Regions from separate parts of the Homo sapiens genome. Here region 1 is linked to region 2. The links come from fine-mapping of genetic effects on gene expression. A gene starts in region 2. The other region holds a variant in brackets. All regions are shown on one strand. Distances are between the middles of the regions. Region 1 has its middle 76 kb from the start of ZNF280B. Region 2 holds the start of ZNF280B (zinc finger protein 280B).

Region 1 (16,362 bases), 74 kb after region 2:
GGCCCCAGAGTTTCCATTAATGAGTTTTAGATGAAAGGAAAGGGTGTGCAATGCTTTCTTTATGCAAACCAGCCTGTCTCCCTCTTCTTGTCTCCTAGCCCCTTCATAGAACCTCAGTCCAGACAGTCACCGGAATACATTTCCCAGGTGGGGTGGAGAAAGCCAGGTTGGCTGAATCTGGTTCCCTGTGAGGACACAGCTGCTGAGCCCAGTGAGCAGTGAACAGATGATGGCTTCCCAGCTGTCATTATCTGCAGCCCCTCAAGGACAAGCCTATAGCACCCAGTGCTGCCCCAGTCTCAGACCTATTGAGCCCTTCAGTTTCTCCCTGCCTTTGTCTATTTTCTTCTTCACCAAAGTTATGACTATGAGGGCCCCTCTTAAGCTGCAGTTGTATTTATTGCTCTGCAAAGAATTCCTGTACCATGACATACCTGTCTGGTCCATGCTGCTGTTTTTAGCAATGTCCTGGGATCTTGGTCTCACTGAGGGAGATTCTCTGATAGACATCAGAGTAGGGAGTCCAGTTTGGTAAAGGGGAAGCCACCAGAAATGCACGCCTGTGAGCAGAGTTGCCTCCTTCTTCCCCACTCAAGAGTGTGGCCCCTTTTCAGGCTGCCAAGTCTTGTCCTGGAATCTCTGGGCTGTCAGGGTGGGTCTCCTCCTACTCTCAGCCCACCCACCTTCAGCATCAAAAGGACCCTGGAGTTTTCTCACTGGACAGAAGGAGAGCCATAAGAGCCATACTGAGCTCTTCTGTCTCTTACATGTTGCTTATGCACCCCTGGCTTAAACCTCACTGTGTGGGGACCGAGTAGTCCCCTTGCATCTGGTTTTGAAAGACTTATGAGGTCCCTCATCCAGAGCTCTGGCTGCAGCAACCCCTGGGGAGGTCCTAAGTCTGCAGACTTGGAGAATAATAGAAAGAAGAATTAGGGAAGTGAGTAGGTGTTATTCATTGGAAATCGTATATGGTGTATTTAGTGCTAACTAACATGCTCACTGGAGGGTAGCTGTGTTAGAGAGACTCTGCCTTTGAGGTTCAGCTCATAGACCTGGCATCAGTAAGAGGAGACCAGCCCCAACACTGCCTCTTCCAAGCCTCGAAGCCTGTGAGGAGTTGGTAGATAAACTACAGCGCACCCAGGTAAATTTGTATTTCAATTTAACAATATCATGTGGGAGATACACATACTAATTCTTTGTCATTGTTTTACCGAATTCAAATTTAACTGCACTCCAATGTTTTTATTTGATAAATTGGAGAACCCTACCTCCAGGCCACAAGCACTCCCTCTCTAATCATGGCCTACTGCATGAAAAGCAATCATAAAGTTGTTTTTGGGCATAAATGAGGTCACACTCTCAGGAATTAAAAAGCTATTGGTCAATAGTAAGGTTGCAGTTGTAGTAAATCTTAATACAACCTATCAAAACTTCTGGGATACAGCAAAAGCAGTGCTATGAGGAATGTTTAGCATTAAATACGTACATCACAAAGTCTGAAAGAGCACAAATAGACAATCTAAGGTTACACCTCATGGAAATGGAGACTCAAGAACAAGGCAAACCCAAACCCAGCAGAAGAAAAGAAATAACGAAGATTAGACCAGAACTAAATAAAATTGAAACAAAAAGCAATGCAAAAAACAAATGAAACAAAAAACTGGTTCTTTGAAAAGATAAATAAAATTAATAGACCATTAGCAAGATTAACCAAGAAAAGGGAGAAGATCCACATAAGCTCAAATAGAAATGAAACAGAAGATATTAATACTGATACCACAGAAATATAAAAGATTATTCAAGGCTACTCTGATTACCTCTATGCACATAAACTAGAAAGCCCAGAGGAGATGGATCAATTTCTGAATGTATACAACCCTCCCAAATTAAATGAGGAAGATATAGAAACTCTGAACAGGCCAGTAACAAGCAGCAAGATTGAAATGGTAATTTAAAAAAAATCAACAAAATAAAGCCAGGACCAGACAGATTCACAGTTGAATTCTATCAGACATTCAAAGAAGAATTAGTACTAATCCTATGACATTAATTGTGATGGTTAATACCGAGTGTCAACTTGATTGGATTAAAGGATACAAAGTATTGATCCTGGGTGTGTCTTTCAGGGTGTTGCTGAAAGAGATTAACATTTGAGTAAGTGGGCTGGGAAAGGCAGACCCACCCTTAATCTGTGTGGGCACAATCGAATCAGCTGCCAGCATGGCTAAAGTATAAGCAGACAGAAAAATGTGAAAAGAGAGACTGGCCTACCCTCCCAACCTATATCTTTATCCTGTGCTGGATGCTTCCTGCCCTTGAACATCATACTCCAAGTTCTTCAGTTTTGGAACTCGAACTGGCTCTCCACTCACCAAGGGTGACCTAGCTATGGCTAATGCTGAGTGCCCAATTTGCCAGCAGCAAAGACCAACACTGAGCCCTTGATATGGCACCATTCCTTGGGGTGATCAGCCAGCTATCTGGTAGAAGGTTGATTATATTGGAAATCTTCCATTATGAGAAGGGCATAGGTTTGTCCTCACTGATATAGACACTTATTCCAGATATGGGTTTGCCTGTAAGACTACCATCCTCCGTGGACTCATGGAATGCCTTATTCACCATCCTGGTATTCCACATAGCATTGTTCTCGCCAGGGCACTCACTTTATTCATAAAGAAGTGCAGCAGTGGGCTCATGCTCATAAAATTCACTGGTCTTACCATGTTTCCCATCATCCTGAAGCAGCTGGATTGATAGAACAATGGAATGGCCTTTTGAAGTCACAATTACAATGTCAACTAGGTGACAATACTTTGCAGTGCTGGGGCTAAGTTCCCCAGAAGGCGTGTATGCTCTGAGTCAGCATCCAATATATGGCACTGTTTCTCCCATAGCCAGGATTCATGAGTCTAGGAATCAAGGGGTGGAAGTGGAAGTGGCAGCACTCACCATCACCCCTAGTGATCCACTAGCAAAATTTTTGCTTCCTGTTCCCACGACATTATGTTCTGCTGGCTTAGAGGATTTAGTTCCAGAGGAAGGAACACTGCCACTTGGAGACACATCAATGATTCCATTAAACTGGGGAAGTTAAGATTGCCACCTGGACACTTTGGGCTCCTCCTACCTTTAAGTCAACAGGCTAAGAAGGGAGTTACAGTGTTGGCTGGGGTGTTTGGGACAGACTATCAAGATGAAATCAGTTTACTACTCCATAACGGAGGTAAGGAAGAGTATGCATGGAATACAGGAGATCCATTAGGGCATTTCTTAGTATTATCATGCCCTGTGATTAAGGTCCATGGAAAACTAAAACAGCCCTATCCAGGCAGGACTACAAATGAACCAGATGCTTCAGGAATGAAGATTTGGATCACACCATCTGGAAAAATATCCACGACCTGCTGAGGTGCTTGCTGAAGGCAAAGGGAATACAGAATACAGAATGGATAGTAGAAGAAAGTAATCATCAATACCAGCTATGGCCAGCTGCAGAAACGAGGAGTGTAATTGTCATGAGTATTTCCTCCTTCTTTTGTTAAAAACATGTTTGTGCGTGTATACCTTTGTCCTAAGAAAATATCTTCATGTTATTTCCTTTCTCCTTTATCATGTGACATAAGATTTATTGACTTCACATCAGCGTTTAAGTATCGTTAACTTTATGTAACAGTATTTGGGTTGGGGATTGATGTGTTTCTGTTTGTATGAATGATAGTTGTATTATGTTAGGTGTCATTATGACCTTATTATTGTCTTTATTTGAAGATTATGTATGATCTCAGAAGATATATATGGGTTGAAGTTGACAAGGGGTGGACTTGTGATGAGTAATACTGAGTGTCAACTTGATTGGATTGAAGGATAAAAAGGATTGATCCTGGGTGTGTCTGTTAGGGTGCTGCCAAAGGAGATTAGCATTTGAGTCAGTGGGTGGGAAAGCCATGCCCACCCTTAATCTGGGTGGGAACAATCTAATCAGCTAACAGCATGGCTAGAAAATAAGCAGGCAGAAAAATATGAAAAGAGAGATGGGCCTAGGCTCCCAGCCTACAACTTTCTCCTATGCTTGATGCTTCCTGCCCTCAAACATGGAACTCCAAGTTCTTCAGTTTTGGAACTCGGACTGGCTCTCCTTGCTCCTTAGCCTGCAGACAGCCTATTGTGGGATGTTGTGATCATGCTATATATATACAGATTCCATTAGTTCTGTCCATCTAGAAAACCCTGACTAATGCACTAATTCACAGGAAGGAGAAAGAGGAAATTCTTCCTAAATTATTCTTTGTAGCCAGTGTCACCCTCATACCAAAATGAGGGAAGGACATAACAAAACAAGAAAACTACAGAACAATATCCCTGATGAACATAGATGCAAAAATAATAAATGAAATACTAGCTAACCAAATCCAACAGCTATCAAAAACATAGTCCACCATGTTCAAGTGGGTTTCATACCAGGGATGCAGGGATGGTTTAACATATGCAAGTCAATAAATGTGATATACCACATAAAAAGCATTAAAAACAAAAATCACATGATTATCTCAATGCATGCAGAAAAAGCACTTGGCAAAATCCAGCATCACTTCATGGTTAAAAGCCTTTGCAAAATTGACATAGAAGAGACATACCTTATGGTAAGAAAAGCCCACTCTTTCAAACCCATAGTCAACATTATACTGAAAGGAAAAAAAAGTTGGAAACAATTCCCCTGAGAACTGGAACAAGACAAGAATGCCCACTTTCACCACTTCTATTCAACATAGTACTGGAAGTCTAAGCCAGAGCAATCAGACAAGAGAAACAAATCCAGGACATCCAAATTGGTAAAGAGGAAGTGAAACTGTTGCTGTTGGCAGATAATGTGATCATATACCTAGAAAACCTTAAAGACTCATCCAAAAATCTCCTAGAACTGGTAAATAAATGGCCAGGCACGGTGGCTCACGCCTGTAATCCCAGCACTTTGGGAGGCCGAGGCAGGCGGATCACAAAGTCAGGAGATCGAGACCATCCTGGCTAACACGGTGAAACCCCGTCTCTACTAAAAATACAAAAAATTAGCCGGACATGGTGGCAGGCACCTGTAGTCCCAGCTACTCGGGAGGCTAAGGTGGGAGAATGGTGTGAACCCAGGAGGCGGAGCTTGCAGTGAGCTGAGATTGCGCCACTGCACTCTAGCCTGGGCGACAGAGCGAGACTCCATCTCAAAAAAAAAAAAAAAAAAAAAAAAGAACTGGTAAATAAATACAGCAAAGTTTCAGGATACAGAAGTAAGGCACACAAATCAGTAGCTCTGTTATACAATAACAGTGAACAAGCTGAGAATCAAATCAACAACTCAAACCTTTTTACAAATAGCTGCAAAAAAATACACCTAGGAATATACCCAACCAAGGAGGTGAAAGACCTCTACAAGGAAAACTACAAAACACTGCTGAAAAAATCATGTCACACATCCCCCGCTCATGAATGGGTAGAATCAATATGTTGAAAATGATCATGGTGCCAAAAGCAATCCACAAATTCAATGCAGTTCCCATCAAAATATCACCATCATTCATTACAGAACTGGAAAAAACAATCCTAAAATTCATATGAAACCAAAAAAGACCTGCATAGCCAAAGCAAGACTAAGCAAAAGGAACAAATCTGGAGGCATCACATCACCCAACTTCAAACTATACTCTAGCATAATTTGACTCACAGTCACTAAAACTGCAAGGTACTGGTGCAAAAGTGGGCACGTAGACCAAAGGAACAGAATAGAGAATCCAGAAATGGAGCCAAATAACTGATCTTTAACAAAGCAAACAAAAACATAAAGTGGAAAAAGGACATCCTATTGAACAAATGGTGCTGGGATAATTGGCAAGCCAAATGTAGAGGAATAAAACCGGATCTTCATCTCTCACCTTATGCAAAAATCAAGCCAAGATGAATCAAAGACTTAAATTTAAGGCCTGAAACTGTAAAAATTCTAGAAGATAACATTAAAAAAACCCTTCTAGACATTACTTTAGACAAATACTTCATGACCAAGAACCCAAAAGCAAATGCAACAAGAACAAAGATAAATAGATGGGACTTAATTAAACTAAAAACCTTCTGCACAGCAAAAGAATCAGCAGAGCTAACAGACAGCACACCGAGTGGAAGCAAATCTTCACAATCTATACATCCAACAAATGACTAATGTCTATAGTCTACAAAGAACTCAAACAAATTATGAAAAAAAATAAGCAGTCCCATCAAAAGATGGACTAAAGACATGAATAAACAATTTTCAAAAGAAGATATACAAATGGACAAAAGACATATAGAAAAATGTTTGACATCGCTAATGATCAGGGAAATGCAAGTCAAAACCACGATGTGATACCACCTTACTACCACAAAAATGGCCATAATCAAAAAATAAAAATAATAATAGATGTTGGCATGGATGTGGTGAAAACAAAACACTTTTACACTGGTGGTGGGAAGGTAAACTAGTACAGTCACTACAGAAAACAGTGTGGAGATTCCTCAAGGAAATAAAAATAGATGTACCCTTTGATCCAGCAATCTCACGACTAGGTATCTACCCAGAGAAAAAGAAGTCGTTATACAAAAAAGATACTTGCACACGCATGTTTATAGCAGCACAATTGTAAAAGCATGGAACCAGCCCAACTGCCCATAAATCAACAGGTGGATAAAGCAAATGTGATGTATACATACACATACCATGGAATATTACCCAGCCATAAAAGGAACAAAATAATGGCATTCACAGCGACCTGGATGGAACTGGATGCTGTTATTCTAAGTGCAGTAACTCAGGAATGGAAAACAAAACATTGTATGTTCTCACTCATCAGTGGGAGATAAGCTATGAGAACACAAAGGCATAACAATGATACAATGGACTTTGGGGACTCAGGAGAAAGGGTAGGAGGGGGGTGAAGAATAAAAGACTACTCATTGGGTACAGTGTACACTGCTTGGGTGATGAGTGCACCAAAATCTCAGAAATCACCACTAAAGAACTTATTTATGTGACAAAGCAACACTTGTCCCCCAAAAACCTATTAAAATAAAAAAATTGAAAAATAACCAAAAAGAGAAAAATCACTAAAACCCTTAAAAACCCAAATAAATCAGTAAATAAATAAATATATAAATAAATGAAAGACGAGAACCTCTTCCACTATAGAGAGAATCAGAAGCAAGAGATGAAGAAGCAAGAATCCCGACAAGCCATCACAGACTGTCCTGTCACCTTAGATGAACATTGCCCCTAAAGTTTGATTTGGATGCACAATAAATTCAAACTTTAAAATAAATACATAAATAAAATCAGAAAAAAATGGCCTAAGGACCTTCAAAGATAGTAAGGAGCCCTCTACGAGATGGGTACAATGCAGCAACAACAGCGAGAATCTCAAAAGAAGTGTGCAGAGTGAAAGAAGCCTGAACAAATGGGAAGATAATGTTTGATAACACTGATACATTCCAGAAAAGAGAAACCAAACAGTAGTGACAGAGGCAGATCTGCAACTTCCAAGGAGGGTGTTGGGGGAGGGAATGAGGTGACAAGGGTCATGAGGAGCTATTGGGGTTGGTCACAGGTTGTATGTTGTATAGCTCCCGGTGGTGGTGATGTTTTCAAGGATCCATAGAAATGCCAAAATTTGTCTCATTCCCTATTGTAAATATGGGTGGCTTATTATATGTGCATTATTCCTACATGAAAGGAGTTTTATTAAAAAAAGAATAGGCTGGAGAGAAAGGAAGCACAGGGATTCACACTGAGGAGAAGGGGGAGGAAGACACCACTCTGGAAACTCCTGGAAATGGAAAAAGTAGGATGATGGAGACACAGGTTCCCCAACAGAAGTGGGTCTGTGATGACACAGCTGGACCTGCCACCTCAGCCCAGGACTTCAGTGCAGAGACCCTGTGTCCCAAGCTACAGGGAGCAGGACA[C/T]CCTGCTTTTGTTTTCTGGACACCCTGTTCCTGACTCTGAGGACTCAGGGGAGGAGGAGCCTCCACTCTCAGGCAGGGCCCTGGATATCCCTGGACCCATGGGGGAAGCTGCAGCAGCAGAAGCCACAGGCCAGGCCTGAGCAGCAGCAGCCGGGGCTCACCCTCCTGGCAGAAAAGGAAGGGGGTTCTTGTCTCTGTTCCCCCTGGGCCTGGAGCACTGTGGGACCATTCAGGCTGTCATCCCATGCTGCACAGTAATAATCAGCCTCATCCTCAGACTGGAGCCCACTGATGGCCAGGGAGGCTGAGGTGCCAGACTTGGAGCCAGAGAATCGGTCAGAGACCCCTGAGGGCAGCAGATCATCATAATAGATGAGGAGTTTGGGAGCCTTTCCTGGGAGCTGCTGGTACCAGTTTACAGCATTATTTCCGATGTTGGAGCTGCTTCCAGAACAGGAGATGGTGACCCTCTGCCTGGGGGCTTCAGACACCGAGGGTGGCTGAGTCAGCACAGACTGGGCCCAGGACCCTGGAAGTGAGAGAGACACAGACATGGTGATTGACAAGAGACAAAAGGAGACAAGAGGAGAAAGCAGGGTCGCATGGGCTTCCCAGGGCCTCTCTCTTGGTCCCCATCCTGTCACCTGCACAGTGAGTGATGAGGGTGAGGAAGAGAGGGGACCAGGCCATGCTGGAGATTGTCCTGAGTCCTGTCTTCTCTACCCGCAGCTGAAGCTGAGCTTCCCCCAAATCTCTCCCTTTCTTCATACTCTGAGAGGGGGAGAGTCCATCCATGCAAATCAGACCCCCCCCAGGTTTGTGACCCCACCCTGAGCCCTGGGTCAGGCTCCTTGGCTTGAGGATGTCAGGGGGTGGCAGGGGTGGAGCTTTGTGGTCCCAGGGGGTGGGGAGGACACAGCTGTGAGCCCTGAGCAGAGGACACCAGGCAGGGCAGGCGGCTGGTTCTGCTCTGATCACCCCTGTCTTCTCAGGAATGATCCCCATGCGCCCTCTGGTGTCCAGATCAAGGTAAACCATTCTATGATAAGGTGACCAGAACCTCTCAGATACATGGCTTCCTCCCCCCATTCTGTCCACTGCCCCCTCTCTCAGGTCCAAGGCAGGCCAAGTGGTGTCTGTGTCTCCTCCCTGTGACTTCAGGGCTATCTTCACGCTCTACTGAGGAGTCTTCAGACTCCTCAGGAGTGAATCTTTCCATGGCTCTTTGGCTGTACATTGTAGAGGACTCAGGTGGTATCTACATAAAGTCCTATGTCAGGATCAAGCCCATAGCAGGGACCAGCCCCATGGACTCACCTCCCCACCTGTGTTGGACACCAGGTCCTCTCCTCTCATGTGGCTCCTTCCTGGTGGCTAGAGCTCTCCTTCCTCTGTGGATCCTGTGGCGCTGAGGAGAAAGGGAGCTCTTTCCTCTAGGATTCCCTGGGGAGGAATTCCCAGAGGGTTTTCCTGGTAAATCTTTGTTCTCCCTCTACTTCCCCAGATTTGCAGTCATAGTCATCTGGATACTGTGACCAGGGATCTTGCCTAGGAGTCTGTACACTAAATGCTCATCTGCAGGGGATCCTGGCAAATGACTTTGGAGTGTTTCACTTATGAACAAAAAGAGCAAAGATGCTCAGTCTTTGAAGATGGGAAGAATTAAAATTTTAACTTGGTTTAACCAGAGTCTGTCCTCAGGTGAGCCTGATACGTGTTAGCTCTCAACATCAAGCACCCCAACTAGGATTTTTAGGGAAAAATTATGGTTCAAATTCAGTAGTGAGTGTTATGGGGGTGGCTTAAGGATGATAGAAAATTATTTATCTTTGATCTGTAATGACAACTAGAATCTAATAAGCTAAAAACAAGCTTAAGAAAAATTGTAATTCTGTTGATCAGAATGAAAAATGAAACAGGTTATGCCTATGACTGCATGAATTCTGGCATGATACATCCTGGGCTCTTAATAATTACTAGTTTGGGGAATTCTATGGGGATGGAGGAAAACAGCTGGATGGTTTTGTTGATATTTCCACTGGTGAATGTATCACCAGGCAGTTGCCGTAGAATGAGATTTTAAGTGCTCCATTTAAAAATGGAATAGTGAGATTTAATATAGACATTTAAATAAAACCAGTCCATATATGGAACTGAAATAAAATGTATGCTGTGTTTTGGGATTGCATTTCAAGGGTGTCATTATTTTAAGTGTTCCTTTTAGTGTAAGCCATGTTCCTTTACATAATTTTTATAGCTTTCAAAAAATGTTTATTGCATTTACGTAACACATCAGGCATATTAAGTTTTATTTATTTCCAAGTAGAAACAAACTATTAGAGCTGGGCTTCACTTCCTGTTTGGCTCATTGCTTTTTCTTTGATGATGCATAGATGTTCACAGTGAATTTTGTTTTCCTTTCCTCCCACGTTAATGAACAGGGATCACCGAGGCTGAGCAGTGCCTCACATACAGGACAAGGCTGCCCATGGCCCCCTCCCTGCCCACAGATGTGCTTCCTGGTGGATGCCCCATCAGCTCTTAGGCTGAGGACAGAGAGGAGAACAGGTCCACAGCTACGGAATCTGGACACCCAGAGGATCCAGGAGGGACAACAGCTGGGACAGTGAGCCCTGGACAGAGGACACTGACCATGGATTTTTATCCTCATGGGACCCTCACAGACAGACCAAAACTCCAGTCTCTGTGTGTCTTCAGGGCCCAGGTCCTTCCAGGTCCTCCTTTTATCACTACTGTAGGCCCCGGCCCTACTCCTCCTATGAGTCACAATGGACAGTCTCCTCTTCAGGCTGCATTCTCCTTACCACATCTTATCCCACACCTGTCTCCCCATTCCCCCATAAACAATCCCCTGCTCATTTCCATTAGCATTTTTGTGTCATTCTGGGATCACAGCCTCCCAAGTATGTCTCTGCAGGATATCCATGTTGCAGAGAGCTCAACCCCTTGACAGGACCGCTGTGCCTGGGCCACCTAAGGCTGAGCATCTCTCTTGCTTCTCTTCTACACCAGCTCTAGGCCAAGCCATATCTAGACCTTTCAGAATGCTGAACCCACGTTTTCTTAAGCATCAGACTTCCTGTCTCACGTTTGGGTCTCTGGGTCACACAGGCTGGATTCTTCATTCTTGGCATCTCTCGCACAGTTTCTGAGCTCAGGAAATGGTCAGCATAACTGCACCAAGAGGAGGAGACACCTTTGGAACCAGACTAAAGGCTTCTGGGCCTCTGGGTCACACAGGGTGGATTCTTTCTTGTCCCTACCTCATCCCCACCCACCATGTGTGGGCAGCTCCTTTTGCTTCTAGAAACAAATTGATTCTGTTTGCATTGGGAGACCAGTAAGAAAAGGGATTATTTTTACTGAACTTGTGCTCTGCTTCAGTAACACAAGTGACAGCCGAAGTCTTGGCATGAACTGGTGTTGGTCACAGGCAGGGATAAAGGAGGGATGGGGAGACAGGATGAGTGGGGAGATCTTTCTCTCATTTCCACATGGAACAGGAACCCTTGGTAACATGGAGTCAGGATGCAGCTGTGTGACACTGATAACCAGCCAGTCCTCAGGCTGGAGCCGAGAGGTGCTCCAGGAGGCTGTGTGGATAAACCCAGAGCAGGAGAATGAGGCTGGGACCCCTGAGGGACCATCACTGCTGTCCTAGGTCATAAACTTGGGGGCTCTTTCTGGGAGGCCTCCGTAGCCATTTCCACGGGAATGCCCAATGTTTCTGCTGCTCCCCATGCAGAAAAAGGTGACCTTGAGATGTGGTGGTCTTTCCACATACTCACCACTAGACCCTGATTCAGCAAGAAGCTCCAATGGTGTAAGAGAGGAGAAGAGAACACAGGCGCTGAGGGATCAAGAAACCCACGCTCAGCAGTCCCCATGGTCCTGAGTGGGATGAGCTGCAGGAAAGTCACATCCATGGGACCTACTTCCCCCGTGGCCAAGGAGCAGCCTCTGGCTTGTCTCAGCCACAGTGGAGCCTCCCCTTGACTCTCCTGTCATGTCCTACATAGAGGTTTACTGGTCTCAGGTCCCCAGTTACCCTAATACCTAACCCCATCTCCTGACATTGCCACTGAAATGCAGGTACCCAGGACTGAGCCAGGTCAGCACTATATCTAGAATTCCCTGACCTGTGTCCTCAGGCAGCATTTCATATTTGAGTGCCTTGTTCCTGGGACACAGTGAGCCACAGACAGCCCTGAGAACAGACTACTGGGGATGGAAGGGGAGGTCTCTGCCCGTACGCTGGAAGAGCAGAGTCCATGCTGCAGGGCACTGTTCACCTGCTAGGATGTCCCCAGGCTCTGACCATGATGTGAGCTAGGAAAGCCTCATTTTGCTTCTTTCAAGAACAAAAGTCCAGCTCCACAGGCAGTGGTGTTAGCACATATGACAACCAGCCAAGACTTCAGTGTCATCAGTTGCTTTGGTTTTGTTTTGTTTTACTGAGACTTCAGACGAATGGATGGGAAATTGAGAGAAGAGCCTTTTACAACTAGAAAGTACTTCCAAATGTAGTTTGTGCCTAGGCCAGTTATTTTAAAATTTAAAATTTTTTAAGAACAAGACCTAAAGCAGGGTGAGGTTTTTGTCCCACTTCCCCATCTGTGTGTGTCACTGTGAGAAGCATTGCTTGGCCAAATCATACAGTAATAGTCAGCCTCATCCTCAGACTGGAGCCCGGAGATGAGTAAAATCCCTGTATTGGCTGAAGCATCTTTGGATCCAGAGAAGCGGCTGGGGACTCCAGAGCCCTGGCCCTTATCTGAGTCTGAGTAGTAGTACAGGAGATACCTGGGAGGGCTCCCTGGCTTCTGCTGGTACCAGTATATGTTGTAGCTACCAACATTGATGTCACTGGGCAAGGTGCAGGTGAGTCTGGCGGATTCTCCAGGAGATGCGGAGGAGGAAGGTGGCTGAGTCAGCACAGGCTGGGAGAGGGAACCTGCAAACACAGACACTCATGGTTGATGGGCAGGGTTCAGGGTGAGGTTTTTCAGGGATCTTTACCAGAAGAGCCAGAATCAGGTTGGGTGGCTGGCCCTGATCTCTGAGGCCTGTCCCTACCTGTGCAGTGAGAGAGGAGCAAGAGAAGAAGAGGAGTCCAGGCCATGGTGGACACAGCCTGACATGCACAGTGGGACTGGGCTGCCCCAGGCCTCCTTTTCTTCCCATACTCTGCAGAGGAGGGGCTGCTCATGCAAATGTGTTTTCATCCAGGGACTGCCCAGCCCCTCTCTAAGCTCTGGGGCTGAAGCTCAGCTCACACTGCAGACTGAGGAGGAAGAAGTTTTGCTTTTCCCCTTGAGAGGGCTCCGGAAGAAAGCACCTACTGAAACCATACACACCTTCCTGCTCAGGGGACTCTGCCATGCCATGGGAGGACATAGATGCTAAGTACCCCTCAGTGAGCACGGGGTCTTAGCCCCTAGTCTTGGATTTCTTTGAGTGAATGGTCCTTACTGAGCAGCTGTGTAGGGACCATAGGGCAGTCCCCCAGCATCCCATGCTGGTTAGAGGACACTTACCTCCTGATGGCCCAGCTGATCTCTGCAGCTCATTAGTCACTGTCTCTATTCACACCTCTATGGTCTGATTGCTAGACACTAATTCCATAAGGCTATGCATGATTATTGTGATTTCTCACTCCCAGAGTGAGTCTTGGTCCATGGGATGTAGACATGTACATATATAACTTTTAAAATCTAGAAAAACCTAACTGCCCACATGTGCCATCAGGGTAGGCATCATGGAGAAGAGGTCAGCTGAGGAGCTAGGTTGAAGGGCAGCTGGGGGTTACTCAAAAGGACGGTGAATAATGAGAATTTTGCAAGAAAAATAAATGATCCATGACATGTTAAAGTAGCAATTCAGCAAAAGTTATCTCTACAGTGGTTTCATACATTTTAGAGTTTTTACTCAACGTAGTGATATAGGGAAATGAATAGCATTGGTAAACTTACTTTTACAAGTGAGTAGTGTGACATATTTCTCATTTTATACAGTCAACCGTTATCTCCCTAAGTAAAACTTGTTGTTTTCTGCACAGTTGTGTCCCTGCTTGCTCTGACCGATTTGGGCTCTGTTCCTAGGGCAGCCTGTTCCAGGAACCAAGGACTTTCTGATTTTTTTTGAGGCAATTTGACAATGCTGTTGCTATGGGCTTTCTCTGAGGGCTGACTCTGAGGAAACAAAGCTGCATTCTCTAAATCACTGTCCCTGACCTGAGACCTGGGCCCTGGCTAGCACCAGCCCAAGCAAACATGAACACAAATGGTAAACAGCCCAGTTTTCCCAGTTGTAGGTGGTGCTGTCGGGTCGTGCTCCTAGGAGACCTGAAATGTTCCCATCTCACTTCCCCACAGACTGCAGCACCGTGGGGGCCTCCAGAGAACTGTCCAAATCCAACGTTAATGATCAGCCTTGTCCTCAGCCTGGAGCCCAGATATGCTCAGGAAGGCCTCCTTGCCAGACTGATCACTCAAGAATCAGTTCTGGATCTGCAGGTGGATATTTACATCCACAGATCAGAGGTTTAAGGACACTTCCTGTTCATTGTTGGTACCAGGACACAATTCCAAGGACGTTATTGCTGCTGTTTCCAGTGCAGGAGATGGTGGCTGGTTTAGTCACAGACAAACTGTGCAGGCCACCAAGTGAGCCCTGACTGCCCAGGACCCTAAGAGTCAGGACAGAGACACAGGGTGTGGGAAGTGGCTCGGTGAGCCGGGGGAGCAAGGCAGAGCCCTGGTCCTCCCAGTGCCAGTCCCTGCCTTTCTATCTCCAGCCTCCTGTGCAGAGACTGAGGAGGGTGAGCAGCAGAGGGATTCAGGCCATGGTAGAGAAGTCTCTGGAGCTCTACTTCCTGAGCCACACAGATTAGGGGGAACAGCCCCTTTTCCCTGGCCCTTCTTAGAGGAGGGGACTCAATGCAAGTCTAACCTGTCCCCATGGTTGTTCCCTTCACATAAGATGCTGAGTCTGATTATACTTCTCGAGGACTGGGTGGCTTCTTGAGGCTGGGTAGGAGAGCATGGTCAGTGACTCTTCAGGCACCCTGGGAGGATGCAGCTGCTGGGCCCTATGAATACTAAATAGAGACAGGGAGACAGGTGTCTGGTGTCCCAGCCAAGTCCAGCCATGAACTGACTTTCCAGGCTGCACAGAAATCCATGGGTCTCTCTTCCTTCTTGATTCTCACTGGATCAGCACATAAGGCAGAGTGGTGGAGTTTGGGGAGAATAAATGAGCATGCTTGTGTGGTTCACTGGATTCAGTGGAAATGCAGAGGACTCCAGGGATCAGAAGGAGAAAAAAAAAAAGGAGAAGGAGGAAGTGCTAGCTGAGGCAAAATAGGAGAATCAGCCAACTCTGGGCTACTTCAGAACTAGGGAATCAGAGAGGCTCGTAAAAGAGAAAAAATAGGCTGGGCACAGCGGCTCATGCCTGTAATTCCAGGACTTTGGGAGGCTGAGGAGGGTGGATCACTTGAGCTCAGAAATTCAAGACCAGCCTGGGTAACATGGGGAAACCCCATGTCTACCAAAAATACAAGATATTAGCAGGGTGTGGTGGTGCGTGCCCATAGTCACAGCTACTTGGGATGCTGAGCTGAGAAGATTGCTTGAGTCAGGAGGTGAAGGTTGCAGTGAGTTGAGACCACAGCCTGGGCAACCAGGGTGAGACCCTGTCCCTACCCCCACCCCCACCCCACCCTACCCCCCCAAAAAAAGAGAGAAAATGTATGAATGTCCAATTCCAAGAAAAAAAATCTGGAAAAATACCAATAGGCTTCCTGCTATAAAGCTCTTGATAATTAACTCAGGATGATAGAGGGGAGAAGTGGTTGACAGGAAAAGGAGAGAGACCCAAGAAGGGAATTCAGGAATCAGAGATGTGGGAGGGGAGAGGGTAAGGATGGGCTACACTACAGAAAAGACTAGATGAGAAGCTAGTAAGAATGTTGGATGGGAGCCAGAGGGGAGGTCAGGTTAGTTGTTTGTTTGCTTTTGTTTTGTTTCTTAAAGAAAGGGGAGCCTCTCCCTGCTTTGCAGCTGTCCTCCCTGGTCGTCTTCCTGCATGGAGTGTGGCTCGTTCCATCTCAGCTTACCGCAAACTCCGCCTCCCGGATTCCAGTGATTCTCCTGGCTCAACCTCCCGAGTAGCTGGGATTACAGGCTGCGCCACCACGCCCGGCTAATTTTGCATTTTTAGTAGAGACGGGGCTTTTCCATGTTGGCCGGGCTGGTCTGGAACTCCCGACCTCAGGTGATCTGCCCGCCTTGGCCTCCTAAAGTGCTGGGATTACAGGCCTGAGTCACCACAGCCAGCCAAGTGTGGGGTTCTTCT
Region 2 (16,362 bases):
AACAGCAGAGATTCCAAAAGGGTTAAACTCAGGGATGGAATCCCAGGGGTACCTTCTTTAGCTGTGGTCCCTTCAGATATGTCTTCTACAATAAGCACAAATACACCCTCACAGGGGATCTGCAACTCATCAAACCATGTTCAGAATGGAGTAACATTTCCTTGGCCTGATGCTAATGGAAAGGCACATTTCAATCTTACAGATCCAGAGAGAGCAAGTGAGTCTGCCCTGGCAATGACAGACATTTCAAGTCTAGCAAGTCAAAACAAGACCTTTGATCCCAAGAAAGAAAATCCCATCGTGTTACTTAGCGACTTTTACTATGGACAGCATAAAGGAGATGGGCAGCCGGAACAGAAGACTCACACCACCTTTAAATGCCTCAGCTGCGTGAAAGTTCTAAAAAATATTAAGTTTATGAATCACATGAAGCATCATTTGGAATTTGAGAAGCAGAGGAACGACAGCTGGGAAGACCACACCACCTGCCAGCACTGCCACCGGCAGTTTCCCACTCCCTTCCAGCTACAGTGTCACATTGATAGTGTACACATCGCCATGGGGCCCTCTGCTGTCTGTAAAATCTGTGAATTGTCATTTGAAACAGATCAGGTCCTCTTACAACACATGAAGGACCATCATAAGCCTGGCGAAATGCCTTATGTGTGCCAGGTTTGCCATTACAGATCGTCGGTCTTTGCTGATGTGGAAACACATTTTAGAACGTGCCATGAAAACACAAAGAATTTGCTTTGTCTGTTTTGTCTCAAACTTTTCAAAACTGCAATACCATACATGAATCATTGTTGGAGGCACAGCAGAAGGAGGGTCCTTCAGTGTTCCAAGTGCCGGCTACAGTTTTTGACGTTGAAGGAGGAAATAGAGCACAAAACCAAGGACCATCAAACATTTAAAAAGCCGGAGCAACTGCAAGGGTTGCCTAGTGAAACAAAAGTTATTATTCAAACTTCAGTTCAGCCAGGATCAAGTGGTATGGCTTCCGTTATTGTTAGCAACACTGACCCTCAGTCTTCTCCTGTAAAAACTAAAAAGAAGACGGCTATGAACACTAGAGATTCCAGACTCCCTTGCAGCAAGGATTCTAGCTGAAAATATGTTCGACTGACTTCCAGGAGTTCCGAAAGGCAGAAGTGAGGCTAGGCCATATGTGCATTGTGGCTGTAGATGCTAGCAAGCAATGTCATCAACTGTCAGGTTGTTTTTTACAGTGACATCTCATCAGCTCCCTATTGTCAAGAAGTAGCTCCAAAGTCTTTGAGCCCTTTCCCAGTCAAATGCTCCCAACAGGGCATCCCTTATTCTGACCTCAGAGGTTTTTCTTGTTCATGAACTTTAAATAAATGGAATCACACAAAGATTCTTGTCTTTGGCTTTTTAAAATAAGTGAGATGGCTGGGTGTGATGGCTCATGCCTGTAATCCCAGCACTTTGGGAGACTGAGGTGGGTGGATCACTTGGGGTCAGAAGTTTGAGACCAGGCTGGCCAACATAGTGAAACCCCTTCTCTGCATAAAATAGAAAAATTAGCCAAGCGTGGTGGTGGGCGCCTGTAGTCCCAGCTACTCGGGAGGCTGAGGCAGGAGAATCGCTTGAACCTGGGAGGGGGGAGTTTGCACTGAGCTGAGATCGCGCCACTGCCCTCCAGCCTGGGTGACAGAGCATGACTGTCTCAAAATAAAGTAAAATGAAATAAAATAAGTGAGATGCATTTTTGCTGTGTGTAGCAGTAGCACATTCTTTTTCATTGCTGGGTAGAATTTTGTTGAGTGACTGTGGCAGTTTTGTATAAATTTATTTCACTGTTGATGGACTTTGAGGCTGATTCTTTGGCAATTTTGAATAAAGCTGCTATGAGCTTGTGCGTGTCTTTTGGTAAGCATGTAATCATTTCTCGTGGGTATATATAGCTATGAGAAGTGCTGGAACTGCATATATTTAGCTGTCTAGTGTAGATACTGCCAAATACATTTCCAGAGTGATTGAAACGATTTACATTCCCACCACCGATACTGCGAATTCCATTGCTACTGATCCAGCACTTGGTACTGTCAGTCCTTTTAGTAAGTGCCCTTCTCTTGAAATTGTAGTGGTACCTTATTGTGGCTTTAATTTGCACTTCCCTGATGATTAATGGACCTTGAGATTATATAGTTATCGGCCACGTGAGTATTTCTTTTTATTAAATGTCTATTCAAGTTTTGCCCCCTCCTACCTTTTTAAAAACTGGGCTGTCGACTGGGAAGGGTGCTGGGGCACTGGAAATGTCCCATATTTGGATCTAAATCGTGGTTTTATGGTTTATCTTTCATGAGTCTTATTTAAGAAATTGTCTACAAACGACATAAAGATATTCCTTCTATGTTCTAGAAGCTTTACTGTTTTGATGAGACATCTCAAACTGATTTTTTGTTAATGGTGTGATAAGGCATGAAGACTAATTTTTTCATATACATACCCAAAATCAATCAGCACCACTTACTAAAAAGACCACTCCTTCCCTACTGTATTGCCGTGGAAACTGTGAATCAGGTATGATTGTATATATGTGTTTCTGGAATCTATTTCATTTCATTTGTCCTGTTCTCTATCCTTGTGCTAATGCTGCAGTATCTTAATTATTGTAGCTTTGCATAATCCTCCGTGTGGTAGTTTCATTTCTCCAACTTTGGTGTTCAAAATTGCCTTGGCTATTCCAAATGCTTTGCGAATTGAAGTGGCTTTCATGGGTGTGCTTTTCTTGGTCTCAAACTCAGGTAGAATAGTTTACTTTAATTGTGATGTTAGCTGTGGGGCTCTTTGTAGTTACCCACTGAGTACACGGGAATCAACTTACAAATCAGTAACAGAAAGATCACTGAAAAAAAACCCAAAGTTCCTAAATTAGGCAATACATTTCTAAACAGGGCTGGGACTAGGGTGAGGCAAGCAGGGAACCTAAGGTGACAATATGCCATACCTGAAGCTGGGCGTGGGTCTCTCCTTAATGTGCCTCAGCCTCCTTGCTTATCTCACCCCAGTCCTGGTCCTCATTCTGAATAACCCATAGCTCCTCTAAGAAATTGCAGTGAAAAAAGGAAAATGTTGAACTGAAAGATATTGAAAACAGCCACAAAATTTATGGGATGGAACTAAAGCATTTCATGGGAATTTATATTTCTAAATGCATATATTTGGGAAGAAGAAAGGTTGACTAATGATCTAAGTCAGTGCTGTCCGTAGATCTTTCTGCAATGATGAAAATGCTCTACTTCTGCTCTGTCCAATATGCTACAGGTGACTATTGATCTGTTGAAATGTGGCAAGTATGACTGAGGTACTAAATTTTTTATTTTATTTTTGATTAATTTAAAACTAAAAAGCTATTTTTGATTAATTTAAAACTAAAGGAAGAAGAGACAAATCTTCCTTAAAGAAGAATTGCAAAGTAACTTGTGTAGATAATTTTCCTTCAATGAGACCTCACGGCCTTCCTGCATGTAGGCAAGATTTAGAATAAGGTATGAAAGGGGGGGGAAGTAATTTACAGCGGAGAAGCCAGTAGGAAGTCTTATTGATAGCATGGATCGCTGATGAGAAATTATGAGAAAGACACATCATGTCTGTGATAGTCTTCTAAAAACCATAACCCCAGTGTAACCATGAGAAAAACATCAAACCTAAATTGAGAGACACTCTGAAAAATACCTGACCTTTACTTCTTAAAATTGTCAAGGTCATGAAAAGCAAGAAAAGTTTAAGAAACTGTCACAGACCACAGAAGGCTAAGAACACAAAATGACCAAGTACAATTCAGTATCCTGGGTGGGAATCTGGAACAAAAAGGATGATGGGAAAAACTAGTGACATTTGAATAAAGCCTGGAGCTTAGTTGATACTAATTTACTGATGGACATTGGAATTATTATGAAGCCAAAAGAAGATCATTTCTCATAGATTTATTTTTCATGTTATTATTTTTTGAGACGGAGTCTCGCTCTGTTGCCCAAGGCTGGAGTACAGTGGTGCAATCTCAGCTCACTGCAACCTCTGCCTCCCAGGTTCAAACAGTTCTCATGCCTCAGCCTCCCGAGTAGCTAGGACTACAGGCGCGTGCCACCACACCCAGCTAATTTTTGTATTTTTTGTACAAAAATGGGGTTTCACCATGTTGGCCAGGCTGGTCTTGAACTCCTGACCTCAAGTGATCTGCCTGCCTTGGTCTCCAAAAATGCTGGGATTACAGGTGTGAGCCACCGTGCCAGGCCTCTTACGTACATTTTAGATATTGCAAATATCTTCTTTACATATCAGCCTCATATATACATTTTAGATAATGCAAATATCTTTACATATCAGCCTCATATATACATTTTAGATACTGCAAATATCTTCTTTACATCTATGATCTCTTCATTTTGACTATGGTACACTTCACTGAACAGAAATCTTCAAATGCAAGGGTGAGTAATATTTAGGCCATGTGATTTGATTATAATACAATTAAAAAATCTTTTAAAAATCTCATAGATTTCAAAAATAAATAACATATACTATATAACCCTTGTGTTAGAAAGAATCACTATGTAAAAAATAGAGGTTCCTCTTCAAAGACTTTCCTCCCTGTCTAATTACGAATAAATAGTAACTTCTCTTAGAAGTAAAATTTATTCAAAGACCTGTGCTAACATTCTTAGATATCTGCTAGCCGTAATAAAGAAATTAATATACTTTGTGTTCTTAGCTCCCACAATTTAGCCTAAATATTTGCCCTTGCATGCTTATACTGGTCCAAGCAAGCATTAGGTCATAGCCTGTTCCTCTTCCTATTTGGAGGTGTTTTTACCTTTCTCAGCATTCTACAAGTTACATCCTCCTTCCTTTGTTCTCCTCTGCCTTTGCCTCTTTTAGAAAGTTCTAAGTTGTTAGCCAATCGGGACAAACACAGAATGTGAGGTCCTGTTCCAGCCAATGGAAACCGGACACAGCAGTAGGGTGGATGCGTCAGGTTATAAATAACCCTGTATCCTTTGTTTGGGGTACTCTCGTGGCAAAACTGCTGGCGAGTGTACCCTTTCTGCAGAAAGTGAAAATGGCCTTGCTGAGAAAATTAAATTTATGTTCAAGTGCTATTTCTTTGCGGCACCAGGGAACAAGCATTTCTAACAACTAGCAAAATTAGGACATATCTAATTGAAGGATAATGAACATATTACCAAGCGGACTGGTGAGACACAGTTAAACTGGTACTTAAAGGTAAATTTATAGCATTAAATACAAGAGAAACAAAAAAGTTTACAAGCAAACGAGGTAGGCATTTTTCTCCAAAAGTTGTAATGAGAAGTAACAGAACAAGCCTATGAAGTCACGAAGGAAGAAAATAACAGAATGGAAGAAATAGATAAAATAGATAAGAAAATAACATTATAGATTAATTAAACCAAAAGCGATTTACCCGCCCCCCAAAAAGATTGCTAAAATAGACTTTTGGCAGAATTGGTCAATTCAAAAAAAAAATCAAAGCTGCAAGTAAACTGAGTGGGCAAACTTTCTGTAAAGGGCCAGACAGTAAATATTTTAAGCTTTTCATACATGGTCTCTGGCAATTAATCAACTTTGCTGTTGAAGCAGGAAAACAGGCATAAATAATACCGAAAGGAATGGGCATGTTTGTTGTTCCAATAAAACTTTATTTATGGACACTGAATTTTGAATTTCATATAATTTTCACATGCCACAAAATATTCTCTTTTTAGCCATTAAAAAAACGTGAAATCGGTTCTTAGCTTGCTGCCAGCTGTACAAAAACAGGTGGCAGGCTGGATTCAACTGGCCCCAGATGTAACTAGAAGAGGACAGATGTTAGGTTCAGTTGTTTCCTCACAATCCCTTAAGCATGGATAGTCAACAAAGGGACCACACCTGAGAATTATAACAGCTGGCCTTCTGGTGGGCAAACCATCCCCTGATGGACTGGAAGCCTACCCCCCACCCCAAGCCCTGGCTGCGACAGCTCTGGAACCCTGACTGCCTGGGTGCCCCTCAGCTCTGGAACCCTGACTGCCTGGATGCTCCTCAGCTCTGGAACCCTGACTGCTTGGATACCCCCTCAGCTCTGGAACCCTGACTGCCTGGAACCGTGATCCGGAACCCAAGATCCTTTCAAGGCCTCAGGGGTATTGCTGCTGCCCTCCTCCTTCTCAATTTAACCCCGCGTCCAGCCGTCGCCACCAGGGGCGTCAGAGCGCGCGCATGCTCCTAGCTCGGAGCCGCGCCGATCTCGCGCCGGCACCTGGCAGCCAATCGCAGGTCTCCACTGGACGCGCGCGTGTGGAGGCGTGCGCGTCGGCGGCGCCGGGGGCCTGAGGAGGCGTAGTCGCCGCCGGCTGTGCCCCGGGAGCGCCTCCGGGGCTGGTGCGTGGCCGGCAGCTCGCGAACAGCAGCTGATCCGGACTGGTAAGGACGGGGGCGTGGCGCGGCTTCAGCGTTCCCTGAGGGGAGACTTGAGGGATTTCATGGCGAGCCGCAGCCCTGCGGGTCGCGACACCGCGCTTGGCCGTGCGCTGCCGGAGCGGCCTTTGCAATACAGCCGCTTTCTGTGGGGGAGTGCAGGGCAGAAGCAGGTCCCACGATCCCCTCACGCACACCCCCTTCCCTAATCTCAGCGGGCGCCACTTTTACATCAGCCTCCACTCCCTCACGCAGACGCCCCCACCCCCGGGCTGGGCCCGGGCCTCCTGGAGAAGGGGCCTTTCCTGGCTCCCAGTGCGCTCCCCTCCCCCATCGCCCCCGCGGGGTCTCTTTTGGCGCTCAATGTATTTAAAAATCTGAAAACTGCTTTGTAACCCCAGGCCCTCCCCAGTTCTGGAGACCTGTAGGCCCAGACCCCTTAAGGCATTTGAATGTATGGGTCTCTCTCCCCTACCGCAGCGTCTTGTCTCATTTACTGCGTCGCTGTCGGGACTCTTAATGCAGCCCCTGGGACCCTAATGGAGTCCCTCCCGTGAGAGCCAGGACCTCGGGTGATTTGCAGGCTTTTGATTTGGGCAGTTGGCGGGTGGGACGTTTTCCTTTGCTAAGGTAGGGTAGATTGGAGGAACAGATCTGGGGGAAAGGAGTTCAGTTCACTTATCTGGTTAAGTGTGAGATGATTGATAAACACCTAAATGGCAATGTCAGGCAGTGGGATCGAAAATATTCTTGTGACATGTAAGTAACTAATGCTTCTCTCTGGTTACCTCAAGGATGTGACCTTCTGCCTGGAATAGCTCAAGTTCTTAAAAGTTGCGTTGTAATAAACCTGAGGTAAGAAAAGAGAAGTCTCCCTGATGAGGACCAAAGTTGTATTTTCGTCCTTCAGTTTCGCTCCCCTGCCCTTTCCTTTGCTGAAACATAGCTGTTTGGTATTCAATATTTTACTGAGGGAATCTGAATGATGTGTTTGATTAGTTCAGGCCAATTGTTGATGTAGGTCATTCGGGAACCCTCTAAATTGCTTTGTTGAGAAAGGAGAGGGTGGTAGTGGCATTCTTTTACCACATCTCTTGAAAAAAAAAAAAAGAGCATCAGGGATGTTAAGTTATATAAAGCTGACTCCTTTTATCCTACCCTCTTTCTCAGCGACTGTATTTCATGAGGTAACTGCATGCAGCAGGACAGGGGAGGTCATCTGAAGTCATTGCATGCCAGTAGGTGAGATTATAGTGAATTGTGTGCCCAGCAATTTGTGATTACAGCTCAGTGAGACCCATTGTATTAGTTATCTATTGCCGTGTAACAAATTGTCTCAAAACTTAGTAGTTTAAAAAAAAATTTATTACCTCATAGTTTTTGAAGGTCTGGAATCCAAGAGTGGCTTAGCTGGCTGTTTCTGGCTCAAGGTCACTCATGAGGTTTCAGTGAAACCCTTGGCTGGATTGTCAGTCTCTGCGGAATTGACTTGGTTTGGATCATCTGCCTCTAAGCTCACTCACTGGGCTGTTGGCAAGAGGCCTCAGTTCCTTGCTCTGTGGGCCTCTCCATGGGGCTGTTCATGTCACAGCAGCTGGCTTACTTCAGAGCAAATGATTCAAGAGACCTTGTACCCAAGATGAAGGGCAGAGTCTTTATGACCTAATTTCTGAAGTGGCATACCATCACTTCCTGCTGTATGTGCTTGATCCCACAGGCCAACCCTGTTAGTGGGAGAGGGCTACAACTATGTGAATTCCAGGAAGTGGGATTCATTTAGGGCCATCTTGGAGGATGGCCACCGCAACCATTTATCCACCATTTAACCCTTTTCCATAGGATCTCAAAGCATTGTCCTGTTACTCTGGGTGAATAATTTGACTTCTTGCTAAGGCCAGAACCTCTACATGTGCACTTGTTTATTTAAGGATATTATTCTAGCAAGACTTCTCTTTGTCTAGGGTTAAGTTTTCTATCTCTCCAGATCATTAATATAGCAAACATACTGATTGTACCATCACCTCACCTTAAAGATCTCGTTTTTGATGCCACATCTCCCATCTGCTTGTTTTAATTTGTATTTGCTTGTCCTTACAGGAAAATTTCTCCAGAGTTGTCCGTATTTGCTATCTCCTGTTCTCGTTCTTCCTTAAACCCACTGCTGTCAAGGTCACCAATGAATTCCACTTTGCTTAATCCATTGGTCAGTTTTAGTTGATTTTCGTGATTTTATTTGATCTATTGGCAGCATATATTACAGTTCCTTTTCTCCTCCCCATTGGATTCTGGGATGCTTCTCTTTCTCAATTCTCCTCCCACCTGAATGGCTGTGAATAATTGTTTTTTTTTTAATTTCCTTTACCAGCTCCTTCTCATCTCCATGACCTCTAATCAATGGAATGCTCCAGAGCTTAGATCTCAGACCTCTTTTCCCTGAGTGATCTCATCCAGTCTTGTGTTTTAAATAATGCTACATACTGAAGACTTCAAAATTTAAGTACCTACCTCGGAACTTTCCTTGGGCTCTGATCTCATAGATTTACCTGCTCAGCATTACCTCTTGTGTGTCCTCCTCCTCTCCTTCACATCCCAAACCCAATCCATCAATGAACCTTGTGGGCCTTCTAGATTTTTATCTAGAGTCCGACTTCTTAGTATCTCTATTTCTCCATCCTGTCTGATACTACCATCATCTTTTGTTCATAATATTTCAGTAGCTTCTTGTCTTCTGCTTCCACTATTACTCTCTAAAGTCTATTCTCCACACAGTAGCCACAGCAATCCTAATGAAATGAGTGAGATCATATTACTTCTCACTCAGAGCCTTCCAGTAATCTCTCATCACACTCAGGGTAAAATCTGAAGAATTTGTTTTTATTTTTTGTCTATTTATGTACTTATTTTTTGAGATGGAGTTTCGCTCTGTCACCCAGGCTGGAGTGCAATGGCGCAGTCTCGGCTCACTGCAACCTCTGCTTCCTGGGTTCAAGTGATTCTCCTCCTCAGCCTCCCAAGTAGCTGGGATTACAGGTGCCCGCCACCACACCCAGCTAATTTTTGTATTATTATTATTTTATTTTTATTTTTATTTATTTTTTTGAGATGGAGTCTTGCTCTGCCACCCAGGCTGGAGTGCAGTGGCATGATCTCAGCACACCGCAGCCTCTGTCTTCTGGGTTCAAGCAATTCTCCTGCCTCAGCCTCCCGAGTAGCTGGGACTACAGGCACGTGCCAGCACACTTGGCTACGTTTTGTATTTTTAGTAGAGACGGGGTTTCACCATGTTGGCCAGGCCGGTCTCGAACTTCTGACCTCAGGTGATCCACCCGCCTCGGCCTCCCAAAGTGTTGGGATTACAGATGTGAGCCACCACACCTGGCCAAAGCTGAAGAATTTAGAATGGCCTACATGATCTTGGCTTTCCTTTGCCACAAACAGCTCATTTTTTATCTCATTTCTAACTTGTCACTCTTTTCATTGGTCCACCTGTGTTAGCCTATTGATCAGTCCTTGCATGTGTTAAGTGCTCCAGTCTCAGAGGCTTTGTGTTTGCTGTTCCCTTTGTTGGAGTATTCTTCCCCAGATAGCCATATTCATGTTATGTGAGTATCAACCTGCCTCCATTTCCTACTTTATTTTTCTCCCTAGTGTTTATATAACCATGTTACTTTTGTTAAAAAAATTATTTTCTGACTACCCCTTCTGGAATGTCAGCTCCCTGAAGTGAAAGACTTTGGATCACTGCTATATCACCAGACCAATACATGGCACCTTGTTGGCCCACCAAACTTTTATTGAATGAGTGGTCTTCTTAAATTCGTCTCAAATACTACCTTGATGCTTCCCTTTCTCCTTTTCTCTGTAGTAATGAGATTATGAGAACTGTGCAGATTCTTGATCATTCCTGTATAATTTCTCTCTTAGTTTTTTGTGGACTGGGATATGTTTTAATTCTACTGATTGAATACATTTTATAGCTATAGTTCCACTAAAATAGCAAACATCAGAACATCAAATGTGTATGTTTGGCTACACACAGAACCTTATATGATGGTCTTTCTGTAGATTAACAATTTCTCCCTAATTTCTTAACATCCCTCCCACCAGCTCAGTTCTAATGCAGCAATATTACCTTAGGGTCAATTTGATATGTGAAAAGAGAATAGTGACTTTCACCTTTTGGCTTTTAACACCTAGTTAATGTGGGCACAAGTTGTTTGTTTGTTTTTTTTTTTTTTCAGACGGAGTCTTGCTGTGTTGTCCAGGCCGGAGTGCAGTGGCACAATCTCAGCTCACTGCAACCTCTGCCTCCCGGGTTCAAGCAATTCTCCTGCCTCCTGAGTAGCTGGGATTACAGGCGTGTGCCACCACGCTCAGCTAAGTTTTTGTATTTTTAGTAGAGATGGGGTTTCACCATGTTGTTCAGGCTGGTCTGAAACTCCTGGCCTCGTGAGCCACCTGCCTCAGCCTCCCAAAGTGCTGGGATTACAGGCGTGAGCCACCATGCCCGGCCTGGCACAAGTTATTTTAATCTTATTCTTTGTTAGCTTCTTATACTTGTAAACTACAAGTGTGTTTAGGTCCATTCCTTGTTCTTTCCCTTCAGTGTGTAAATTAATCAGTTATTTGGATAATACTGAATAATACAATTCTGAGAGTTGAGCTTTAGCATTAGTGTTGTATAAGTTTGAAACAAAATGTGAATGCTCTGCAGAAGTCTTAACTGGGGTTTTTTCCCTGGGAGCTTCCCAGTCGCAGAGACCCAAGTTACATAGGGAGTCATGATAGGACCTATGTGGTCTGCATAGAATATGCTCTCACAGCTTTTCACAACCTCTAGATTCCTTATAACTAGGTTGACTATGTAATTTATCATCTAAACTGAAGGACTTATTAAAGATTGAAGAGTGGCACTATCCATAATTCCACAGAGATAGAAGTTTAAACTATAACTGTCTTGGTCATACCAGCATATTTGGTAATCCTACGTATAATTTATTTGGTCTTCCAAGTCCTTGGTATCGGAGAAGAGTTCACTCTGCAAGGAGATATAACTGTTCCATCCTTGGGAATGTATGACTCCCACTACAGTTTGTAAATTGACCACCTGATACTAGCTTAATTCTTTTTGTTCGCTAGATGAGCTTGCATTGTTCCATTATCCTTGCTACGAATTGAGTCTGCTTAATGGTGCTTTGAAAATTTAGCAGCAGTTGTTGGGAGATGGGGGGTTATACCAGCCTGTTACTAGGCATTTGTTTTTCTTTGAAATATAGTTCATATGCCATAAAATTCACCCTTTGCGGTGTGAAATTGAATGGTTTTTAGTATTATATACTTACAAAATTGTACAACCATCAGCAATATCTAATTCCAAGACATTTCATCAACTCTAAAGAAACCTTGTATCCATTAGCAGTCACTCCCTATATTACTTTTCCATAGCTGCTATAACAAATTATCACAAACTTGGTGGCATAAAACAACAAAAATTTATTCTCCCTTAGTTCGGGAGGTCAGAAGTCTAAAATAAGTTTCACAAGACCTAAATCAAGATGTTGGCAGGGCTGTCCTCCCCTGGGAAACTCTAGCGGAGAATCCATTCTTTGCATCTTCTAGTTTGTGGATGTGACGTTCTTTGGCTTGTGACCATGTCACTCTAATCTTTGCTTCTGTCTTCACATCACCTTTTCCTAGAGTATGTGTGAAATCTCCCTCTGCTTCTCTTACAAGGACATTTGTGGTGGCATTTAGGGCCCACCTGTATAGTCCAGGATAATTTTCCCATCTGCAAAGATCCTTTTTCCAAATAAGGTATCATTTACAGGCTTAAGGGATTAGGACCTGATATTTTGGGGGCCATTTTTCAAACCTGCTATATTCCTTTCATTCTTCTTCATCGAGCCCATGGCAGCTGCTACTTTATTTCTGTCTGTATGAATTTGCCTTATTCTGGACATTTTGTATAAGTAAAATAATAAAATATGCGGCCTTTTGTGTCTGGTGTTATTCACTTAGTGTATTTTCAAGGTACACCGTATTGTATGCTTGTTTGTACTTAGTTTTTTTATGGCTGAATAGTATTTCATTGTACGGATATACCACAGTTCGTTTATTCATTTATCAATTAATTTACATTCGGTTGTTTGCACTTTGTAGCAGCATTATGGCTATATTCCAGCTAGCTTATATATGTGTTATATTTTCAATTCTCTTGGGTATATACCTAGGAGTGATATTGTTGGGTCATATGGTAACGCCATATTTAAATTTTGAGCAATTGCCAAACTTTTCCAAAGTACAAGTTTATATTATCACCAGCAGTATTTGAGGGTTCAGATAGCTGCACATCCTCTGCAACGCTTGAGATTGTTTTTGCTTATAACTAACCTAGTGGATGTGAAGTAATAGCTCATTGTGATTTTGATTTGCATTTCCTTAATGACTATATTGAGCAGCATTTCATGTGCTGCTTGGCCATTTGTGTATCTTTGGAGAAGTGTTCAAATCCTTCGCCCATTTTTTATTGTTTGTTTTTGAGACAGGGTCTCGCTCTGTTGCCCAGGCTGCAGTACAGTGACACAATTATGGCCCACTGCAACATCAACCTCCCAGGCTCCAGTGATCCTCCCATCTCAGCTGCCACCCTGCCTCATTCCACCCCTGAGTAGCTGGGACTACAGGCGTGTGCCATGATGCCCAGCTAAATTTAAATTTTTTTTTTTTCTTGAGACAGTCTTGCTCTGGCACCAAGGTTGTAGTGCAGTGATGTGATCACGGGCACACTCTACCACGCCCGGTTAATTTTTTAATTTTTTGTAGAGGTAGGGTCTCACTATGTTGTACAAGCTGGTCTGGAATTCCTGAGCTGACTAAGTCCTCCTGCCTCAGCCTCCCAAAATACTGGGATTACAGGTATGAGCCACTGTGCCTGTGTTTTTAAATTTTTTGTAGAGAAGGGGTCTCACTACATTGCTTGGACTGATCTTCAACTCTTGGGCTCAAGCGATCCTCCCATCTCAGCCTTCCAAAGTGTTGGGATTACAGGCATGAGCCACTGTGTCTAGCTTATTTTTTATTTTTTATTTTATTTTATTTTTTTAACAGAGTCTCACTCTGTCGCCCAGGCTGGAGTGTGGTGGCATGATCTCGGCTCACTGTAACCTCTGCCTCCTGGATTCAAGTGATTCTTCCTGCCTCAGCCTCTCGAGTAGCTGCGATTACAGGCGCGTGCCACCATGCCGGCTAATTTTTGTATTTTTAGTAGAGACAGGGTTTTGCTATGTTGGCCAGGCTGGTCTCAAACTCCTGACTGTAAGTGATTCTCCCACCTTGGCCTCCCAGAGTGCTGGGATTATAGACGTGAGCCACCATGCCGATTGGGGCCTGTTTTTAAAATGAATTGTTTTATTGTGGTAAAAACGCATATAATTTACCACCTTAACCATTTCTAAATTAATAGTTCAGTAGTTTCAAGCATTGATGTGAAACAGATCTCTAGAACTTTTTCATCTTGCAGAACTGAAACAATGCCCATTAAACAACAGACTCACCCTTTTCCTCTGCCCCTAGCCCTTGGTAACCATTACTCTACCTTCTGTTTTTTGTTTTTTTGGTTTTTTGTTTTTTTTTTTTTTTTTTTTTTGAGACGGAGTCTTGGTGTGTTGCCCAGGCTGGAGTGCAGTGGTGCGATCTCCACTCACTGCAACTTCTGCCTCCCAGATTCAGGGGATTCTTCTGCCTCAGCTTCCCGAGTAGCTGGGACTACAGGTGTGTGCCACCACTACGCCCAGCTAATTTTTTTTGAAACAGAGTTTCTCTCTTGTCGCCTAGGCTGGAGTGCAGTGGCGTGATCTTAGCTCACTGCAACCTCCGCCTCCTGGGTTCAAGCAATTCTCCTGCCTCAGCCTCCCAAGTAGCTGGGTTTATAGGTGCCTGCCACCACATCTGGCTAATTTTTGTATTTTTTTTAGTAGAGACAGGGTTTTGCCATGTTGGCCAAGCTGATCTCGAACTCCTGACCTCAGATGATCTGCCCACCTCAGCCTCCCAAAGTCCTGGGATTACAGGTGTGAGCCACTGCTTCCGGCCTCTACTTTCTGTTTCTATGAATTTGACTATTTTAGTTACCTCATATAGGTGGAATTATACAAATACAAAAGTATTTGTCTTTTTGTGACTGGTTTATTTTATTTGGCATAATATCCTCAAGGTTCAAACATGTAGCATGTGACAGATTTTCTTCCTTTTTGAGGTTGAATAATATTCTATTGTGTGTGTGTGCATATATATATATATAATATTTTGTTTATTCATTTTTGGGTAGACATTTGGGTTGCTTCTACCCCTTGGCTATTTTAATAGTCCTTCTGTGAACATGGGTGTGCCAGTATCTCTTCGAGACCCTGCTTTCAATTATTTTAGATATATACCCAGAAGTAAGATTGCTAGAACATATAGTAGTTCTGTTTTTAATTTTATGAGGCATTTCTGTACTGTTTTCCATAGTAGTTATACCATTTTACAATCCAGTGACTGTGCATGAGGATTCTAATTTCTTTCCAACAATGTTTGTTTTTTAATAGTAGTCATCCTACTAGGTGTGAGGTGGTATCTCAAGGTGGTTTTAATGTGCATTGCTTTTATGATTAATGACACTGAATATATTTACTTGGTCTTTTGTGTATCATCTTTGGAGAAATGTCTATTCAAGTTCTTTGGCCTTTTAAAAAATTGAGTTATTTGTATTTGTCATCTCCATTATGGTTTTACTTCTTGCTTTCCAATCTGAATGCTTTTTGCTTCCTTTTCTTGCCTAATTACCTTGGCTATAGAACCTCTAGTACGGTGTTGAGTTGAAGTGGTTAAAGTGGATATCTGTCTTGTTCCTGATCTTAGGGGCAGGGGTACTTTCAGTGTCACCATTAAGTATGATACTATAATAGCTGTGAGTCTCATACAGATGCCTTTGTCTGGTGGAGAAAGTTTCCTTCTATTCCCAATCGTTTTGTTGTTTCAAATCATAAAAGGATGTTAGCTTTTGTCAAGTGTTTTTTCTGCAGGCAGGTGTAGTTTTTGTCCTTTATTAAAATGGTATAGGCTGGGCATGGTGGCTCACGCCTGTAATCCCAGCACTTTGGGAGGCCAAGGCAGGCGGATCACCTGAGGTCGGGAGTTCGAGACCAGCCTGACCAGCATGGAGAAACCATGTCTCTACTAAAAATACAAACAAATTAGCTGGGCGTGGTGACGCATGCCTGTAATCCCAGCTACTTGGGAGGCAGAGGCAGGAGAATTGCTTGAACCCGGGAGGCGGAGGTTGTGGTCAGCCAAGATCGTGCCATTTCACTCCAGCCTGGGCAACAAGAATGAAATTCCGACTCAAAAAAAAAATTAAAATTAAAAATAATAAAAATAAAATTATTGTTGGTTGATTTTCATAGAATGAACCATCCTTGTATTTTTTAAATAAATCCCACTTGGTCATGGTATGTAATCGTTATATATGTTGTTAGATTTTGTTTGCTAACATTTTGTTGAGGATTTTTGCCTCTGTAAGGGATATTGGCTGGGCACAGTGGCTCACGCCTGTAATCCCAGCACTTTGGGAGGCCAAGGCGAGCGGATCACGAGGTCAGGAGATTGAGACCATCCTGGCTAAAACAGTGAAACCCCGTCTCCACTAAAAAATACAAAAAAATTAGCTGGGCGTGATGGCGGGCTCCTGTAGTCCCAGCTACTCGGGAGGCTGAGGCAGGAGAATGGCCTGAACCTGGGAGGCGGAGCTTGTAGTGAGCCGAGATCACGCCACTGCACTCCAGCCTGGGCGACAGAGCGAGACCCCGTCTCCAAAAAAAAAAAAAAAAAAAAAGGATATTGGCCTGTAGTTTTCTTTTTTTTTATATGATTTCTTGG

The links. PIP is the estimated chance that this variant, and not a neighbour inherited with it, causes the effect.
Region 1: its variant is fine-mapped to the expression of ZNF280B in lung (TOPMed, PIP above 0.99).

What each region holds. Positions count from the first base shown.
Region 1 is chr22:22,424,309-22,440,670 of GRCh38, reverse strand. It overlaps IGL, the pseudogene IGLVI-38, IGLV5-37 and IGLV1-36. Among named protein-coding and RNA genes, the nearest start is that of ZNF280B, 76 kb to the left of the region's middle. The variant C/T (reference allele first, on the strand shown) is at 7,984.
Region 2 is chr22:22,498,750-22,515,111 of GRCh38, reverse strand. ZNF280B (zinc finger protein 280B) reads left to right here and starts at 6,370. Exons shown (of 4, transcript NM_080764.4): 1 at 6,370-6,453; 2 at 7,242-7,302. It overlaps ZNF280A (zinc finger protein 280A), which reads left to right. Exons shown (of 2, transcript NM_080740.5): 2 at 1-1,376. The coding sequence ends at 1,110. It also overlaps IGL.